Linked DNA regions of Homo sapiens. The protein of the gene in region 1 interacts with the protein of each later gene in a pairwise test. Each region holds a gene or a part of one and is shown on either strand. Other genes may lie near its edges.

Region 1 (8,976 bases):
CACTTTCACTAAAGAGAACATGAGCTTGTTCAGCCCTTTCCTCACAAGAGGGTCCAGTTCCCCAGACTTCTCCACACGCTCGCTCCATAAGGCCAGCTTTGGCCAGACTGCCTCAGGGGCTTGAGGAGCTGACTCTGGTCCTACCTGGTTTCAGTTAGAGGATCCTCCTGTTATTTTTCCATTTAAAAAGTATGTCCTCAGAAAACTTTACTGGAAGGATGGGTGGCAGGAACTTGTATAGTTCAGCTTCCAACACTTTGGAACAGATTAAAAAGGGAATCTTTTAAATAAAAACTTATTAAAAAAAAAAAAAGACAAAAACTCAGCCAGGCATGGTGGTGCACGCCTATAATCCCAGCACTTTCGGAGGCTGAGGTGGGTGGATTGCTTGAGGTCATGAGTTCGAGACCAGCTTGGCCAACATGGTGAAACCCCATCTCTACTAAAAATACAAAAAAATTAGCCAGACACAGTGGCGTGTACCTGTAGTCCCAGCTATTTGGGAGGCTGAGGCTGGAAAATCACTTGAACCCGGGAGGCGGAGGTTGCAGTGAGCCGAGATCGGGCCACTGCACTCCAGCCTAGGCAACAGAGTGAGACTCTGTCTCAAAAAAAAATAAATAAATAAAGACAAAAACTCTAAAATTGATTTAAAATCCAGCTGTATGGTACCTACAAAAGATATACGTAAAACAGAAACCAAAAAGTTTAAAATTTCAAAAGAGGAGGGCAGACACAGGATATAGCAGGCAAATGCAAATGTAAAGAAAGCAGTGAGAATAACGTTATCAGATAAGGGAGAATATATGTGAAAACAAAAATAAGCCTCTTTTTGGTGAAAGAAGGTATCAAATCAGAAATGCAAGATTCCCCTTCCAAAAATCATCCACTTTTTTCAACAAATTACCTTGTTAGCTGAATACAGAAGGCAAAATAAAAGTCCAAATCCAGGTTGCTATGTGCTGGTCTTCCTTGCTTCCCTAAACCCTCACCACCTTAAGTCCTGGCTCTGTGCTCAGCATGCGCAGAGCTTCTATTGTGAAATGCACTGCAGATCCCCGTGCCAGCTGTGGGCTGGTAAAGTGCTGATTTAGGTAACTACAAAAGGCTTCTTAAAAGGTGAACATGGCCAGACATGGTGGCTCACGCCTGTAATACCAGCACTTTGGGAGGCCAAGGCAGGTGGCGGATGGCTTGAGCTCAGGGGTTCGAGACCAGCCTGGGTAACATGACGAAACCTTGTCTCTACAAAAAAGACAAAAATTGGCTGGGCGTGGTAGTGTGCACCTGTGGTCCCAGCTATTCGGGAGGCTGAGGTGGGAACATGGCTTGAGCTCAGGAGGCAGAGGTTGCAGTGGGCTGAGATCACACCACTGTAGTCCAGTCTGGGCAATTCAGCCAGGCCTTGTCTCCAAAAAAAAGAAAAAAGAAAAAAAAAAAGAAAGTGAACATGGAACTTAGTAATATACATTTGTCATCAATTCCTTAAGATGTTTTATTCCTTTCCTCCTTTCCATTTAGTATGAGTCATTTTCCCCCTAGCACTACATTCAGTACAGGATACCTCATAGTGTTTAAGGAGCTTCATGGGTTTATCTTACTCATACAGAGGTTTTCTTAAACCTAAAAACAAAGGCTTTTTGATACAGTTATTGTTTGAAAAAACTGCATATCAAATAGAATAAGGACATTATAAATGATGAAAGCATAATTTATAAGTAAAATATGATAGTGATGAAGTTTTAGGCACTGCAGCAGCAAAGTGTCTTCAGATATGATACTGAGCAATCCACATTTTTTCTTTACAAAATCACAATCATATTTAAACTCCAATTACAACAGCAACAGAAAATGAAACACCTAAGAATACATTTAAGAGAAATATGCAAGATCTTCATGATTGGTCTGTAAAGAGTTAAAGGCCATAATGAAAGATCTGAATAGAATAAAGTATCATTTTTTTACTTAATATGAAGAATAAACATCGTAAAGATGGCAATCTTCCTCAAACTGACTTACACACTTTGAAATTCAAATCAGAACTGCATAATTTTACTTTTTTACTATTACTGTTGGAACTTCATAATAAAATTCGACTATTAAGGATAAATATACGAGAACAGTAACGAAACTTTTGAAACGAAAAATGAGGGAAGAGTTGCTTTACGAAATACCAAAATGGGCCGGGCGCAGTGGCTCACTCCTGTAATCCCAGCACTTTGGGAAGCTGAGGCAGGCAGATCACGAGGTCAGGAGTTCGAGACCAGCCTGCCAGCATGGTGAAACCCCGTCTCTACTAAAAATACAAAAAGTTAGCCAGGCGTGGTGGCACGTGCCTGTAGTCCCAGCTACTGAGGAGGCTGAGGCAAGAGAATGCCTTGAACCCGGCAGGCAGAGGTTGCAGTGAGCCAAAATCATGCCATTGCACTCCAGCCTGGGAGACAGAGCAAGACTCTGTCTCTCAAAAAAAAAAAAAAAAAAAAAAGCAAAATGAATTCTGAGACAACAAATACAATAGTGTGGTACTACAACAGAAATAGAACAATGGAATAGAATCCAGAAAAATAAACATATATATAAATTTTAAAAATAAACTCATATATAAATATATGTAAACTATATTATAATATAAACTCTCATATATATTTCATATATATGTGACAATTTGGCATATTTTAAAGGTTCCATTTCAAGTCCACGGAGAGTGAGCAGATTATTTCAGTAGATAACATCAGCTCCAATGCCATCTCCTGAGAGGGGCCACTCCTCTGCTGAGCTAAAACAGCCCTGAGTGACACTCTACCATGTTCCCCTGCTGCGTCCTCATCACAGCACCTAACACTATCCTCAACCACATTTCCTCTTTATTGTCTGCATCCCCTGTGGAAAATAAGAGCTCAGAGAAGGAGATCTTGCCTCTCTTACTCACTGCAACACTCCCAGTATCCAGAACACGGCACACCACATGGCAGAGAAGCGCTAAATATGTTTAATGAGTGGATGGATGGATGAAATGCTTCACCACATCATGTTAAATGAAGTTAGATCCCTACTTCACATCACAGACAATACATTCCAGATAGCACAAGGATGTAAATTTAAAATTATAAAACTAATAGAAAACACAGAAAAAGATTTATATTATCTTGGGGTACAGAAAACTTTTCTTTTTTTTTTCTTTTTTCTTTTTTGGAGATGGAGTCTCACTCTGTTGCCGGGCTAGAGTGCAGTGGCACAATCTTGGCTCACGGCAACCTTCACCTCCCGGGTTCAACCGATTCTCCTGCCTCAGCCTCCCCAGTAGCTGGGACTACAGGCACGTGCCACCATGCCCAGCTAATTTTTGTATTTTTGTATTTTGTAATTTTGTATTTTTAGTAGAGACGGAGTTTCACCGTATTGGCCAGGATGGTCTCAATCTCTTGACTTCGTGATCCACCCACCTCGGCCTCCCAAAGTGTTGGGATTACAGGCGTGAGCCACCATGCCAGGCTCCTTTTCATAGCATGATCCCAAAGCCAAGTAAAGAGAAAGGAAATTTAACTGCATAAAACTTCAAAACTTTTTTGTAGCAAAATATATTATAAACAAATTTAAAAGAAACATGACAGAATACTGGCAACGTATAGCAAAGGAATACTATCCACTTTATAGGAAAGACCTCTTTTATATGTAAATAACTCAATATAAAAATGGGCAAAGGGTGTAGACAGGTATTTTAAAAGGCTGGAAGAATGTACATCATAGTTGTTTCTGAGGGTTGGAAACTTGGAATTCTCTCTCATTGCCTTTAAATTTTTAAAAAGGGATAGTAGATATGATTAGTCTATATGCCCAATATTTATATTCAAAAAAATATTAAATTTAAAGGCAAATAAAAGTAACACCTAGACAATTCATACTACCATCACTGGCCAATATGGGAAAGATGAAACTACGGAGAAAGATGAAAAAAGGAAAACAGCTCTAATGTTGCATTGATATGTCCCAAGTCTATTACTGTACTTCGTAATTGCATTCCATTTACAGGTTATAAACACATCTAGTTGACAATTACACTTTATTTCTCAACATCTGAGTTACTCATTTCTCATCTACTGTACAGTTCCAAGTGATTCATCAGTAATTCAGAGAAGCAGCAACAAAAGTGACAAAATGCCTGTCATCAGCTGCTATCAAGTGTCTAGACTAATGTCCCTTAAGGCAGACTGGTTAACTAAACTATGATATGCCCACATAATCAAAGAAAGAAGCCCCGATGTACTGATATGGACAGGTCTCCAAGATATATTGTGAAATGCAAAATAGCTAAAAATAGAACAGGTGCAGACTCCTGAGTAAATATTATCTGTTATCAACTGGATTAAAAATTGGGAAAATACATACTTTTATGGGCTTTTGTAGTCATCTCTGGAAAGCTACATAAGAAATGAGAATCATTACCTTTTTATGAGAAGAGATAATAGGGAGCTTGGAGACAAGAGTAGGAAGAAGATTTATTTTAAGTGAATGCTTATTTTTGAATTCTGAACACTGACTGTATCAGCCATTCAAATTTTAATTAATCACAATCTGAATCAAATTATCAGCAAACATCAAACAAACCCACATTGAGGATCATTCTATGAAATAATTGGCCTGTACTCTTCAAAAGTATCCAAGTCATTGAAGATCAATAATGAACTTTTCTAGATAAAAGGAGACCAAGGAGATACGACAGCTAAATACAATGTGTGATGTGGATTGGATTCTGCACCAGATAAAGGACAGTTGTAGGACAGGTGGCAAAATCCAAGTAAGGTTTGTAGTTTGGCTAATAGTATTGTATCGATGTAAGTTTTCCTTATTTTGATAACTGTATTTTTGCTAGGTATGATAATAGAAAGCACACACGGACACTTAGAGTGAAATGGGCATGTCTGTAATTTATTCTCAAATGGTTCAGAAATATATATACACAAACATGTGTGTGTATACAGGAAGAGAAAAATGGCAAAATGTTAATTTAGATGAAGACTATCCAGAAATTGTTTTATTTTTGCAGCATTTGTTGTTGTCTCAGTCTGTCTCCCAGGCTGGAGTGCAGTGGAGTGATCTCACGTCACTGCAACTTCCGCCTCCTGGGTTCCAACGATTCTCCCACCTCAGCCTCCTGAGTAGCTGGGATTACAGGTGTGTGCCACCACGCCCGGTTCATTTTTTGTATTTTTAGTAGAGACGGGGTTTCACCATGTTGGCCAGGCTGGTCTCGAACTCCTGACCTCAAGTGATCCACCTGCCGTGGCCTCCCAAAGTGCTGGGATTACAGGCATGAGCCACCGTGCCCGGCCTTGCAGCAGTTTTTAAAGTCTGAAATTATTTCATAATAAAAGTTAAAAAAAAAACAAACCAAAAAACCACAAGATGCATTTTCCACCCTTGAAAATAACTAAAATTTAAAAAGCTTATAATACCTAGTGTTATGAACTGTGTCCCCCAAAAAAGGTATGTTGAAGTCCCAGCTTCTAGTACCTTGCAATAGGACCTCATCTGAAAACAGGTTGTCTCAAATATGACTGGTATCCTTATAAGAAAAACGGCTATTTGAAGACATGAACACATAAGGATAACATCAGATGACAAAGGAGGTAAGGATTAGAGCGATGCAGCCATGAACCAAGGAACACCAAAGAGTGCCAGCAAACCACCAGAAGCTAGAAGCTAGGAAGAGTAAAGGAAGGATTCCCCCACCAGTTTCAGAGAGCAAGGCCCTGCAAATGCCTTCATTTCAGACTTCTGGCCTCCAAAACTGTGAGACAATAAATTTCTATTGTTTCGAGCCACTCAATTTGTGGCACTTTATTACAGCAGCTCTTGGAAATGGATACACCAAGTATGGAAGAGCATGTAGAGCGACTGGAATTCTCAAATACTGCAGGAGGGAATGTACAATGGTACATATACTTTGGAAAACAGTTTAGCTGTTTGTTACAAAGTCAAATGTACACTTGACCTAGGTATTTACCCAAGAGAAATTAAAGTATATATCCACAAAAAGACTCATACATGAATGTACAGAGCAGTTTTATTCATAATAGCTAAAAACAGGAAACAACTTGAAATGTCTGTCACAAGTGAATGAACAAAAGGTGGTATATTCAACTGTGTACTACTTAAGACAAAAAGGAACAAACTATTACTACACACAATATCATGTAAAGACCTGAAAAACATTACGTTGAGCAAAAAAAGCCAGGCATAATATATACTGTTTGATTTCATTGACATGAAGTTCTACAAAGGGCAATACTGTAGGGACAGAAATCAAACCAGTGACTTCCTGGGGTGGGGGACGTGGAGTAGAAGTGGCACGAGGACACTGTCTGGCTGGGGTGGGGGACGTGGAGTAGAAGTGGCACGAGGACACTGTCTGGCTGGGATGGGGGACGTGGAGTAGAAGTGGCACGAGGACACTGTCTGGCTGGGGTGGGGGACGTGGAGTAGAAGTGGCACGAGGACACTGTCTGGCTGGGGTGGGGGACGTGGGGTAGAAGTGGCACGAGGACACTGTCTGGCTGGGGTGGGGGACGTGGAGTAGAAGTGGCACGAGGACACTGTCTGGCTGGGGAGGGGGACGTGGAGTAGAAGTGGCACGAGGACACTGGCTGGCTGGGGTGGGGGACGTGGAGTAGAAGTGGCACGAGGACACTGTCTGGCTGGGGAGGGGGACGTGGAGTAGAAGTGGCACGAGGACACTGGCTGGCTGGGGTGGGGGACATGGAGTAGAAGTGGCACGAGGACACTGGCTGGCTGGGGTGGGGGACGTGGAGTAGAAGTAGCACGAGGACACTGTCTGGCTGGGGAGGGGGACGTGGAGTAGAAGTGGCACGAGGACACTGGCTGGCTGGGGTGATGCAAAAGTTCTGTACCTTGACTGAGGTGGTGGCTATGTTGGTGCATAAATTTGTCAAAACTCAATGAATTCTATGCTTAAATTGGGTTATTTTATTAAACTGTGCCTCAGAAAAAGCTGATTTAAAAATTAACACTATTTTGGCTACATAAATTAAAATGTAGGTTACTGACAACCAAACCACAACAGTCATCAACCAAAATCTTCTTAATGCTTCCCCTTTCAACATTTCCCTCTTCCAGAAACTCCCTTTGTCCAATACCCCCATTTTAAAAGTTATTTTGCCTTTTATAACTGAGTTTGATAATACTGAAGAAAGCAGTACAAATGGAAATCACAACAGTTTATACTTGCCTCCACGAAGCTTTCTTTAAACTGGTCTCTAATAAATAAACAAGTGATCCTAATAAATCAACGACCCCTAATACATACTTTTATGAGAAGAGAAAATGCCGTTAAGTCTTCAGTATTCCAGACAACAAGGCTAAGTAAGTTTAACCTTAAAAAAAAAAAAGAAGTTAGGGCCAAGTCTTCTGATGCCTTATTTTCTTTTTCAGAGAAGCCTGGAATCCTCACCTACTATCCCAGCTCCATGCTTCCCTCCATCTCACGGACACTACTTTTTCCTAGGAAAGTTTTGATTGTGCGAACTCCCTTATCAAAATTCCTCAGACTGACCTCCACCCCCATGGCCACCACCCTGCCAAACACACAAACTCCTCCTTCCCGACACTTGGTCCTAAAATTTTTATCCGATTTCTTCTACTCCAGCAGAGCATTTCTCACTATCAGTCACTGCCCCCTTCAGTCCACCTCTAAAAGTCTATACACAGGCTCTTGGCTGGGATGATACTAAGAATGCCTACAACTTACTGAATAACTTCAACATTCCAGGAGCCATGCCAGGCATTTTTTACTTTTATTATTTTATTTGAACTTTCAACAGACCTATGAAGTAGCTATTACTATTAAATGAAATCAGCCAGGTGACGTTCTTCATGTCACCTATATGGCAGACAGGTAATGCTGTAATTCCTATTATGACCATGAGAAAATAATGTTTCAGGAAAGCCAAGCCTCTTGCCAAGACAATGTAGCTATTAAATGGTAGAGCTGGGATTTAAACTCTGGACACACTGACTCCCTTATAACAAATCCTCTCCAGTTATCCCTTCCCAACCCCTGAGATGGGCAAACACTACCTACTTCTCCTGGCCACCACCCTGATCCTCCCCTTCACTCCAGCTTGGAATACGGATAAACTGGGTCCCTAACCACACTTGTTCTTATTACCATATTCAGGTGCAATTATGACTGTATACCATGCAGATGTGCCCTCTTTTATGATCCCTGAGAGCCCATAAGCCCTATAAGCACCAGCACCAGCTTGCATATAACTTTTTTCCCTTTCTGACCCTTGAACAGCACCAAGAACACAGCAGGCCAGGGTATCCAGCTGAGTAAGTGGCAGCTAGGAACAGAGGTCAGGAACACAGAGGGGGCTTTGTGAAAAATATCCAGCATTCTGCTATTTCAATAACCCTGTCCTGAGCAGTGAGGCCCACATGCAGTACAGGAGGAAGGGGGAGGTTTGAGAGGGAAAAATGAGCTCACCCGAGCTCCCAATGGCAGAGGCCAAGCAGCCATTGCCTTCTCCTTCCTTCCTGTGGGGTTCTTCCTTGGGGAGGGACAGAAGCCAAAGGAGGCAGAGCTGAGGGAAGGGAAAGAAGCCATGAGAAACAAGACTCCTGCAACAGCAACAATGAAAATACCTATAAATAAACTAAATAAGACCTGGATAGTAGCTACATAAAGAAAATGATTTTCATGTATTAAGTTCACTTCATTATGCCTATTTAGCTATACAAAGACGAAAGACAGAGAGACATGACATATTCTTGCACAATATGTCTCAATATACCAGGATGTCATTTCTTTAATTCATAAACTTAACACATTCCCAGCCAAGTTATGCCTAAGTAACAATATTTTACAGTTAATATGGGCCATGCGCGGTGGCTCACGCCTGTAATCCCAGCACTTTGGGAGGCCAAGGTGGGTGGACCACTTGAGGCCAGGAGTTC
Region 2 (9,621 bases), on another chromosome or scaffold:
TGGATCTATGTCGCAGCAGAGGAGACGGAATTCTCTTGAGGCATCTGAGCAGGTTTCCCCGTCAGGTAGGGAGAGGAAGTGTTTGTATAGAGCCACACTCAGATCCTAGAGGAATCCAAAACAGCTTTGTCACTGCAGTTCTCAATCAGTGAATGGAAGAGAAATCTGTATCATTCTCCCACTGAGAATGCCACTTACCTCTGGCTGTATAGGATGTGAGGTTCCTAAACCATAACCTAAAGAGGTTGTGCAAAAATTTTCTACAGAGTAGGCTCTCAGTGCCCTCCAGGGGTCACATGCTGTAATGCATCATCCCCATATTTTCCTGACACTGATGATAGATTGGGTTGTATAGCTGAAAGTTACAGCCAAATGGATGCAGCAAAGGAACCTACAGCAGTATTTCCCAGCTTAAGTAATATGCTGATAAACTCACTCTTTTTCTGGGTATCTCAAGACCCCAGGGCGGAAGAAAGGGGTCCAGAGGCATAACCAGTGTCTCTTACCAGGAAAGTGAGGAATACAGCAAGCACAATCTTACAAAAACCTGCTTCTCAGACCCGCGGTGGGGGAAGTCTGGATTCCAAAGTCCTCATTCAGCCTTCACTAAAGCTTCAATTTTACTGTCTTAGGATTCACCACCTCCTTCTGAGACATTCTGCTTCTATAACCATCATTGCTAAAAGTCACTGCTAACAACCTTCTAGACAAGTCCAATGATTTGTGATTTTTACCACATTAGCACCTTTTTTACTCTTAAGTCACCATCTCCTTTCTCTAACTTTGAATTCTTTTTTTTTTTGAGACAAAGTCTGGTTCTGTCGGCCAGGCTGGAGTGCAATGGCGTGATCTCAGCAACCTCTGCCTCCCAGGTTCAAGCGATTCTCCTGCCTCAGCCTCCTAAGTAGCTGGGATTACAGGCATGCATCACCACACTCAGCTAATTTTTGTATTTTTATTAGAGACAGGGTTTCACCATGTTGGCCAGGCTGGTCTTTAACTGACCTCAAGTGATCCACCTGCCTCGGCCTCCCAAAGTGCTGGGACTATAGGAATGAGCCACTGCACCTGGCCTCTTTGATTTCTATAACCATTATAACTAACTCAAATTTGTGTTTTTCCACATAGTATTTTCAAGGCATTTTTCTGTTTACTACTTTGTTTGCTTGGTGTAACAAGCATGTGAGGAAAATATTTATTTATGCCTTTTCTGCAGGTGAAGAAAATGCACAATGGAAACCACCCAGATGTCCAGTGATAGTGGCATGGACAAATAAATGTGGTATAATCATGAAGATAGAATACTAAATAGCAGTTAAAAAATGAAGGCACCCAGCTTGGTGCACAACATGGATGATTCTCACAAATACATAATGTTGAGAAAAAAAGCAAGCCATAACAGAAAATATATGAAAAGCATCCATTTACATGAAGCTCAAAAATGGGTGAAATTAAAGTACATCATTCAGGGAAGAAAAACAGTACACTATAAAGAAAAGCAAGGAAACAACAGAAGGCTAGTTGTTACCTCTGGGTAGAGATAGAGGTTTATGAACAGGAAAAGGCATATAGGGGAAGTTGTGGGGTGCTGAAAATGTTTATTATTTATTTATTTATTTATTTTTGAGACAGGATCTTACTCTGTTTCCCAGGCTGGAGTACAGTGGTGTGATCACTGCAACCTTGACTTCCCAGGCTCCAGAGATCCTCCTACTTCAGCCTTATGAGTAGCTGGAACCACAGGTGCACACCACCATGCCCAGCTAATTTTTGTATTTTTGGTAGGGATGAGATTTTGCCATGTTGCCCAGGCTGATCTCAAACTCCCGAGCTCAAGCAATCCACCAGCGTCAGTCTCTGAAAATGCTGGGATTACAGCGTCAGCCACTGCACCCAGCAGTTTTTTGGGTTTTTTGTTGTTGTTTTATTTGAGACAGGGTCTCACTTCGTCACCCAGGCTGGGGTATGTGGCACAATCAAGGCTCACTGCAGCCTCGACCTCCTGGGTTCAAGCGATCCTCCTCCCTCAGCTCTCTAAGTAGCTGGGACTACAGATGCCCACCACCACACCTGGCTAATTTTTTTTAGAGATGGGGTTTTGCCATGTTGCCCAGGCTGGGAAAGGAGTTTTTAAAATTGAAAAAAAAAAGCACCCATAAATTATGGTACATCTATCCAATGAAACATTAGGAAGCTGCTAAAAAAAGAATGTGGTGATATAAATAATCTCAGAATTAAAAGCTACTAATAGTGTGTTACCATTTGTAAAACTAAAAGGGGGGTACTTATATGTACGTAAATGCTGGTATACACACAAGACTGATACCTAAGAAATTATAAACAGTAGTGCCACTGTGTGGGGGAAAAGGAGGATTTAGGGTTGGGAGTAGAGACTTACTTTTTAGTATATACCCCTTTGTAGTTTGAATTTTTTTGTTTTATCAAGCGCAAGCATTTTTTTTCCCTTTCCTGACTACAAAGATCCACAAGAAAAAGCATTTTTTAAAAACTGCAAAACAGAAAGCTCCATAAACGTACAGCCAGGTTTGGGAACCACTACCCTAGTTAGCTGCCAACTATGTCTTTACCTCTCATGTGTATACTACTCTCAACTTTAAAATCTCTGGTGGTTTCCTAATGCCTTTCGTGAAATCCCAAGCCTTAACCTCAGTCTCTCTTTTCCATTGTTTTTACCCTCTGACTTCCCGTATCATCACAGCGGAGAAATTTTGCAGGGGACACAGGACATCAACCCATCTCCTCATTCCAGTCTTTGAGACTGTATCCAAATGTCCCCTTCCTACTATCATCTGAGTCCCACAAGGTCTGAAGTCGTCCCCCAAAGTCTCTTCTGTAAAAGGACAGCAACGTAACAGAATTGTCCCCCGCCCTCCAGATGCTGGACTGGAGTGATGGAGGGAGCGCAGAGAGGGTACTAACTTTTGAAGCATTTGCCGTGGTAAGTTCAGACTGCCTGCTAGTGTAGAATATCCCAGTGGCTACAAATAGGTGTGGGAGAGACATTTCCTTATTTTGCATGTGGTTTGATTATAATCATATGCCTAAGAATAGTTTGCAGCAAGAAGAGTGGCAGTGCCGCCCTTCTCCATTCCCTTGGGCAAAATGCTTTATTTGCTTCTCGATCCTCTCCACTGTACTCTGTCAACTCACTGTTTTGTTTTGTTTTTGAGACGGAGTCTCGCTCTGTCGCCCAGGCTGGAGTGCAGTGGCACTAGCTCGGCTCACTGCAAGCTCCGCCTCCCGGGTTCACGCCATTCTCCTGCCTCAGCCTCCGGAGTAGCTGGACTACAGGCGCCCGCCACCACGACCGGCTAATTTTTTGTATTTTTAGTAGAGACGGGGTTTCACCGTGTTAGCCAGGATGGTCTCGATCTCGTGACCTTGTGATCCACCCGCCTCGGCCTCCGAAAGTGCTGGGATTACAGGCGTGAGCCAGCGCGCCCGGCCTACTCACTTTTTTTGAAATAAACATGCAGGTCCCAGGGTCTGTCCTGCACTGTATAGCACACATGAGTCTCAATATCAGGCATGATTCTGTCACCCTTGGCTCTTCTCTCCCAGTAAACCAAACCTAACCCCATGTTCCCAAACGTGTGTCTCTGGAAGCCCCCTCTCCCCAGCCAAAGCGCCAGGCACGCTGGACAGAGGCCACCCTAGATACAAGGACCGTTCCCACCTGGGGTCTGGCCCTGAAAGAAAAGTGGGAACGTAGTCGACAAGGACTCCTCTCCAAGAGAGATTCCTAAGACAGATGGTGGAACCCTGGCGGGCAGGCAGCAGCGGCACTGGCTCAGTCAAAGCCACGCTTTATACTCGTTTTGGGAAAGTTTCGATGGGTGTTAGCCCAGGCCAGAACCACAGTGGATGTGTAGGCAGCCAACCACTTGGCTCCGGATGCTCCAATCCCTCCCCTGTCACTCACCCCGGAGTTACACCCCACGTCGAGCCCCAGAATCGGCCCGTTCTCGGGACTCTCAGGAAAGAGCTGTCGAAGCAGCTCCGGGGGCAGGAGGCGGAGCCGTTGCTCCGGAGGGTGGAAGCGAGAATAATGAGGAAAATTTCCGAACGGGGCGGCGCCAGGTGCCAGAACTCGCGATTCCTCTTCCGCTGCGGTCTCCTTAACACTCCCTCCATCCAGTTCCGTGGGCACCGCCATTAGCCTCAACACAGCCTCTGGGCCGTGGCGGAACCGGAAGCCGGGAACCTGCTGTCGGCGTGGGCGGTGGCGGTGCCAGCGCGCGTGCGTCGAACGGCTAGGGCGGGTGGCTAGAATTCTGCGGTGAATCAGAAAAGCTGTCCTGATTTCCTCTCGCTGTATACCTGGAGCCGGCGAGCGCCTGGGGCTTGCCTTGTATTATTGAACCCTCATCACAACACTGGGAGGGGATTAGCAATATCATCCACGTTTTACAGGGATGAAACAAACTCTGAGGGCTAAGTGTCTTGGCCAAGCTGACATAGTTTGAAACTTGGGCTACTTGACCCAGAACAAGTATACTAGTTTGTTGGGATCTTGGAAATCAATTTTAGTCCAATTTCCTTTCTTTATAAATGCAAAAAGTGAGACCGAGAGAACTTACTTGTCTGGGGTCATACATTGAATCTGTGACTCAAAAACTTCCACCCGGTTCAGGAAAGGGTAGCCAGGAGGTGCAGGTCACTTGCGAAGCCAGCCGACTCAGCCCTGTCCCCCAGGGGCAACTGTAGACCATGAGCTCCTTGAGAGGCAAGGACCGTGCCTTAAGAGCCAGCACTTAAAGAGTGCTTACCAGGCACCAGACACCCTTGTAAGCTCCTTAGTCAATCCTCTCACCCCGTGAGAAAATGACCGTATTATTATTCTTTTTATATAGATGAGGACACTGGAGTAAAACAAAGTAACTTGTCCAAGATCCCACAGTTAGAAATGATGGTACTAGGATTCGAACCCAGGGAGTTTGGATCCAGAGGATGTGCTTGCAACGGTGTGTTATTCTCAGCCTTGAGTCTCCTATACTTAACATGGGCCTGGCACAAAGATGCTCAACAAATGTTGTTGAATGAAAACTCAATAGAGAATACAATAAGGCCAGATCTGTTTGGGGAAACTTTAAATGGAAGGGAGAAAGGATGCCAACTGAAGCAGACATAGTGGAATGGAGTTGGGCAAGATGTGACTCAGAGATTGGAAATAACAGAGCTGATAAGGAGAGGAACTGAAGGGTCAACCTAGGTAGCAGGTTCCAGTCAAAAGCCAGGATGGCCCAGAATATCCGTCAGGGTCAACCAAGCATCAGCAGAGTTGTGCAGGACCCCCAACCCCACCCCTGCACCTGGCCCACCCATCTTAAAGGGGTATCCTGCTCCATGAGGCTGGCAGTTCGGTAAACTTCTTATAAGGCACTGGAGCATGACTCCTGCAAACAGTACCATCAGGAGTTAAAATAAGCGCTGTTTTCCTCTCAGTTTTTACTTTATATTTTCTTTTTCTTTTCTCCTTTTTTTGAGATAGAGTCTCACACTATTGCCTGGGCTGGAGTGCAATGACATGATCTCGGCTCACTGCAACCTTTGCCTCCCAGGTTCAAGTGATTCTCCTGCCTCAGCCTCCCAAGTAGCTGGAATTACAGGCACCCGCCACCATTCCTGGCTAAGTTTTTGTATTTTTTAGTAGAGACGGGGTTTCACTATGTTGGCCAGGCTGGTCTCGAACTCCTGACCTCGTGATCTGCCCACCTCGGCCTCCCAAAGTGTTGGGATTACAGGCGAGAGCCACCACGCCCAGCCTTTATATTTTCATCTCTATCTGGCCTGCTGTTTCTCTAGTTTCACTTATTTGAGGACACAAGTTAATAAAAGTCACTCTGGAATTTAGTAAACCACAGTATTCTGCACAATTACAGAAAAGGAGAAAAAGCTGCACCGTTTTGACAAATTTTGGTGAGCTGAGCTGAACTTACCTCTTTTTGTCACTAGATGAAGCTAGCACAAATAATTAACAATTTTCAAGGAGCTGGAATCACCTTGCTTCCAGGACAGTGAATGGCAAGAACTCCTGACCCTGGGGTTCCTCCAGAAGCAAAGATAGGCCCTCGTAACATTACTGGTAATCTAAAATGCCTGACAGGTGACCTCATAAAGAGGTGTTTTAATTTGATCCACTCTGGTAACTTTTCTAACCTATGACCACTTTTCAGAGCCTGAACAGCACAGGTGTCTTGACAATACTTGACAATACCAGCCCCAGCACCTTAAATAGCTGTAGCAGCACCTAAGAGCTCGCTCTGCACTTTGGTCAGCCAGGTTTTATGGAGTGAGATGCATATATAATTTCAAGGGAAAGGGGAAGAAGGGGCGCCCTCTTTAAGGAAAAAACTCCCACCAACTTACAAATATAAAGACAGGTATAAAAGTGAATATTTATTTATAATGAGAAATCACAACAAATTACAAATTTTGAAAAGCTGACTACTAAAAGCATCACAACAAATTTTCTATAGGCTTGGTGTGGTGGCTCACACCTGTAATCCCAGCACTTTGGGAGGCCGAGGCGGGCGGATCACGAGGTCAGGAGATCGAGACCATCCTGGCTAACACGGTGAAACCCCTCTCTACTAAAAATACAAAAAATTAGCCGGGCGAGGTGGCGGTCGCCTGTAGTCCCAGCTACTCGGGAGGCTGAGGCAAGAGAATGGCGTGAACCCCAGGGGGCGGAGCCTGCAGTGAGCCGAGATCGTGCCACTGCACTCTAGCCTGGGCGACAGCAAGACTCCGTCTCAAAAAAAAAAAAAAAATTCTATAATAGTTTGATTGATTAAATGCTAGTCACACTTGAATATTACTTTTTTTCTTACATTTTTGGCTGCATACTCTTTGATTGCTTCTTCACATGACAATCACTTGATAATATCATTTTAGAGAGAGACCAGGAAGGTAATTCAGTCTTTTCTTAGCCTGGTGGATCAAATTTGTCTTTTATTATTTGTGGCAGTTATAAAAGTTTCTTTCAAGTTCACAAGTTGTTATTGGCAATGTCATGTAAATTTTTTGGTTTGTTATCAAATTGGGGGAGAACTTTGATTAAATTTCTTTCATTTATTAGCTGGAAGATTTCAGAGCATTTCAAATTTTCTTGTGCAAGAAATAATCTTAGATCTACTCTTCAAATGGACTGTATTCATTAGCCAATTTGTCGTTGAAAACCTTATTATGAATGATGCATTATAAAATTTTTATCATCTGCATTGATAGCAGTAATTTGTGTCAAGTCAGCAAAGGAATTTAAACATAGGGATTCTGATAAATTGTGTATTGTACAATTCCCATCAAGAAATAAAAGAATGCATGGTGCATTTATAATTATATATGCTGTGCTATTGAGTTACTGTGTTATTGCCGACAGGACAAAACTTGTTTTGACTGGTGTTTAATAAGAGACAGAATCTTCTGCTTATGACTGGAATAATTTTCTTCAGACTAGCTTCTGACTTCATATATTTTCAAACTTTTAGGCCCACATAACTTCGGGTGCCAGGTGCTATTGGACACATTTATATCCTGGTTTGATCTAAGCCCTTTTTTTTTTTTTTTTTTTTTTTTTTTCTGAGACAGTCTTGCTCTGTCGCCCAGGCTAGAGTGCAGTGGCGCGATCTCGGCTTACTGCCAGCTCCGCCTCCCGGGTTCACGCCATTCTCCTGCCTCAGCCTCCCGAGTAGCTGGGACTACAGGCGCCCGCCACCACGCCCGGCTAATTTTTTGTATTTTTAGTAGAGACGGGGTTTCACTGTGTTAGCCAGGACGGTCTCGATCTCCTGACCTCATGATCTGCCCGCCTCCGCCTCCCAAAGTGCTGGGATTACAGGCGTGAGCCACCGCGCCCAGCCGCTCTTCTACCTACAGGTCACAATAGCAGGTAAGTCAGCTTGCTGGATGAATAAGAGTACTTCTGGAAGGTATTCCTGTGTCTGGGTTGCAGGTGGTAGCTATGCATGGAAGTGTCGGTATGCCATATGAATAGATACCAAATGGAGTCTATTCCCAACTCAACTTCCCTGTAGCTTTTATTTCCCAAAAATGCCTGTGGCCACTTCAGTGCCATCTAACACAAGGGAAAATGTGAAGGAGGGGAAGTCAGAGCAGAAATAGACAGCAGCCTTAACCAACTGCAGTTAAAATATCTCACTTTTTCCAATTTTACAAAAACAAATGACCTGGTAAACACATTGCAAGGGCCTTGGAAAGGTCCTACATGGGAGTGAGGACCTCGAAGCCTGAGGTTTATTAGCTTCATGGTAAATCTATCTCTGCCCTGCACAGAACGTGTACCCAAGCACAGTTAAAAAGAAGAGGTAGACCTATAATTGGAAATATCCAATTTAGCAATGACTTGCATGTATCATGGCTTCCACTTCCTCCCACAGGAAGCTTGTACAGCTGACATCCTGGCCCATGGTGCAGCCCATCCTACCCTCCTGTCCCTCTCTGATCACACCTCAGAGCCTTTGCTCAGCTGCTGCTTGCCTATCTCACTCACTGCTTCCAAGGTAGAGCTTAGGGGGCCTCAGAACTGAGGATGAAGCAGGAACCTATGTATATGTTTAAAAATTGAATCTGGCCAGGTGCAGTAGCTCACACCTGTAATCCTAGCACTTTGGGAGGCCAAGGCAGGTGGATGATGTGAGGTCAGGAGTTTGAGACCAGCCTGACCAACATGGTGAAACCCCATTTCTACTAAAAATACAGAATTAGCTGGTCATGGTGGCACATCACTGTAATCCCAGCTATTCGGGAGGCTAAGGCAGGAGAATCACTTGAACCCAGGAGGCCGAAGTTGCAGTGAGCCAAAATTGCACCATTGCACTCCAGCCTGGGCAACAAGAGTGAAACTCCATCTCAAAAAATATCTATCTATCTATCTATCTATATATATGTTTTCACAGAAACAATGCTCCAACAAGGAACTTGTACCTGAACTTTTGAAACACAACCCATGTATAAATTGGGAATTTAGTCTTTATTATAGTCGAGAAATTCTACATTTAGTCCTTGTAGAGTTTTAAACCATTTGGAAAGAATAACCATAGGATTTATAAATGCAGTGTTATAGCTCATGGCAACCAAGAGTGCCCCTATTCTAAATTCCTCGTTTTCTTTTTTCTTTTTCAATATCCCAGGTCCTGCTTTGACCTCATTTTCAGATGAAGAAACTGAGACCCAGGAGGTAAAAAAAATTTCTCCAAAGATAGGGCTGAATTATTCAGGGTAGGCTAAGTGCTATAACAAGCAATCCCCAAATCTCGGTGACTTACTCATCCAGTATCACGGTTCAATGTGGGTCACTGGGAGAGCGGGAGAGGGCACTCTGTTTCTCAAAGACTTCATGGGTGCATCTAGAAGCTCTGCCTTTTCTAGGGGACTGAGTCCTCCAGTGAATCCTCTGAAAATCCTCTGAACCTGGCTGCAGATGAGGGAGAAGAGAGCCTAGAGAATCTCAAGGGAAGATTTGGGGCCAGATCCAGAAGGGGCGTTCCTAACTCTTCCTAACACATTCCATGAGCTGGCCAGAACTCAGTCTCGCAGTCCACCTGGATGCAAGAATGGTGGGCTAGCAGTGTGTCCAGG

What was found.
Region 2: the proteins of ZFP2 (region 1) and BCDIN3D interact in binary tests that used the Homo sapiens proteins (3 or more experiments, as listed by UniProt).

Annotation. Positions count from the first base shown.
Region 1 is NC_000005.10:178,898,206-178,907,181, reverse strand, and holds part of ZFP2 (zinc finger protein ZFP2), read right to left. Parts: intron 1-8,976. UniProt on the Homo sapiens protein: Probable transcription factor involved in neuronal differentiation and/or phenotypic maintenance.
Region 2 is NC_000012.12:49,838,911-49,848,531, forward strand, and holds the start of BCDIN3D (RNA 5'-monophosphate methyltransferase), read right to left. Parts: upstream 4,197-9,621; 5' UTR 4,178-4,196; coding exon 3,944-4,177; intron 2,245-3,943; exon of another isoform or gene 106-2,244; coding exon 1-105. UniProt on the Homo sapiens protein: O-methyltransferase that specifically monomethylates 5'-monophosphate of cytoplasmic histidyl tRNA (tRNA(His)), acting as a capping enzyme by protecting tRNA(His) from cleavage by DICER1.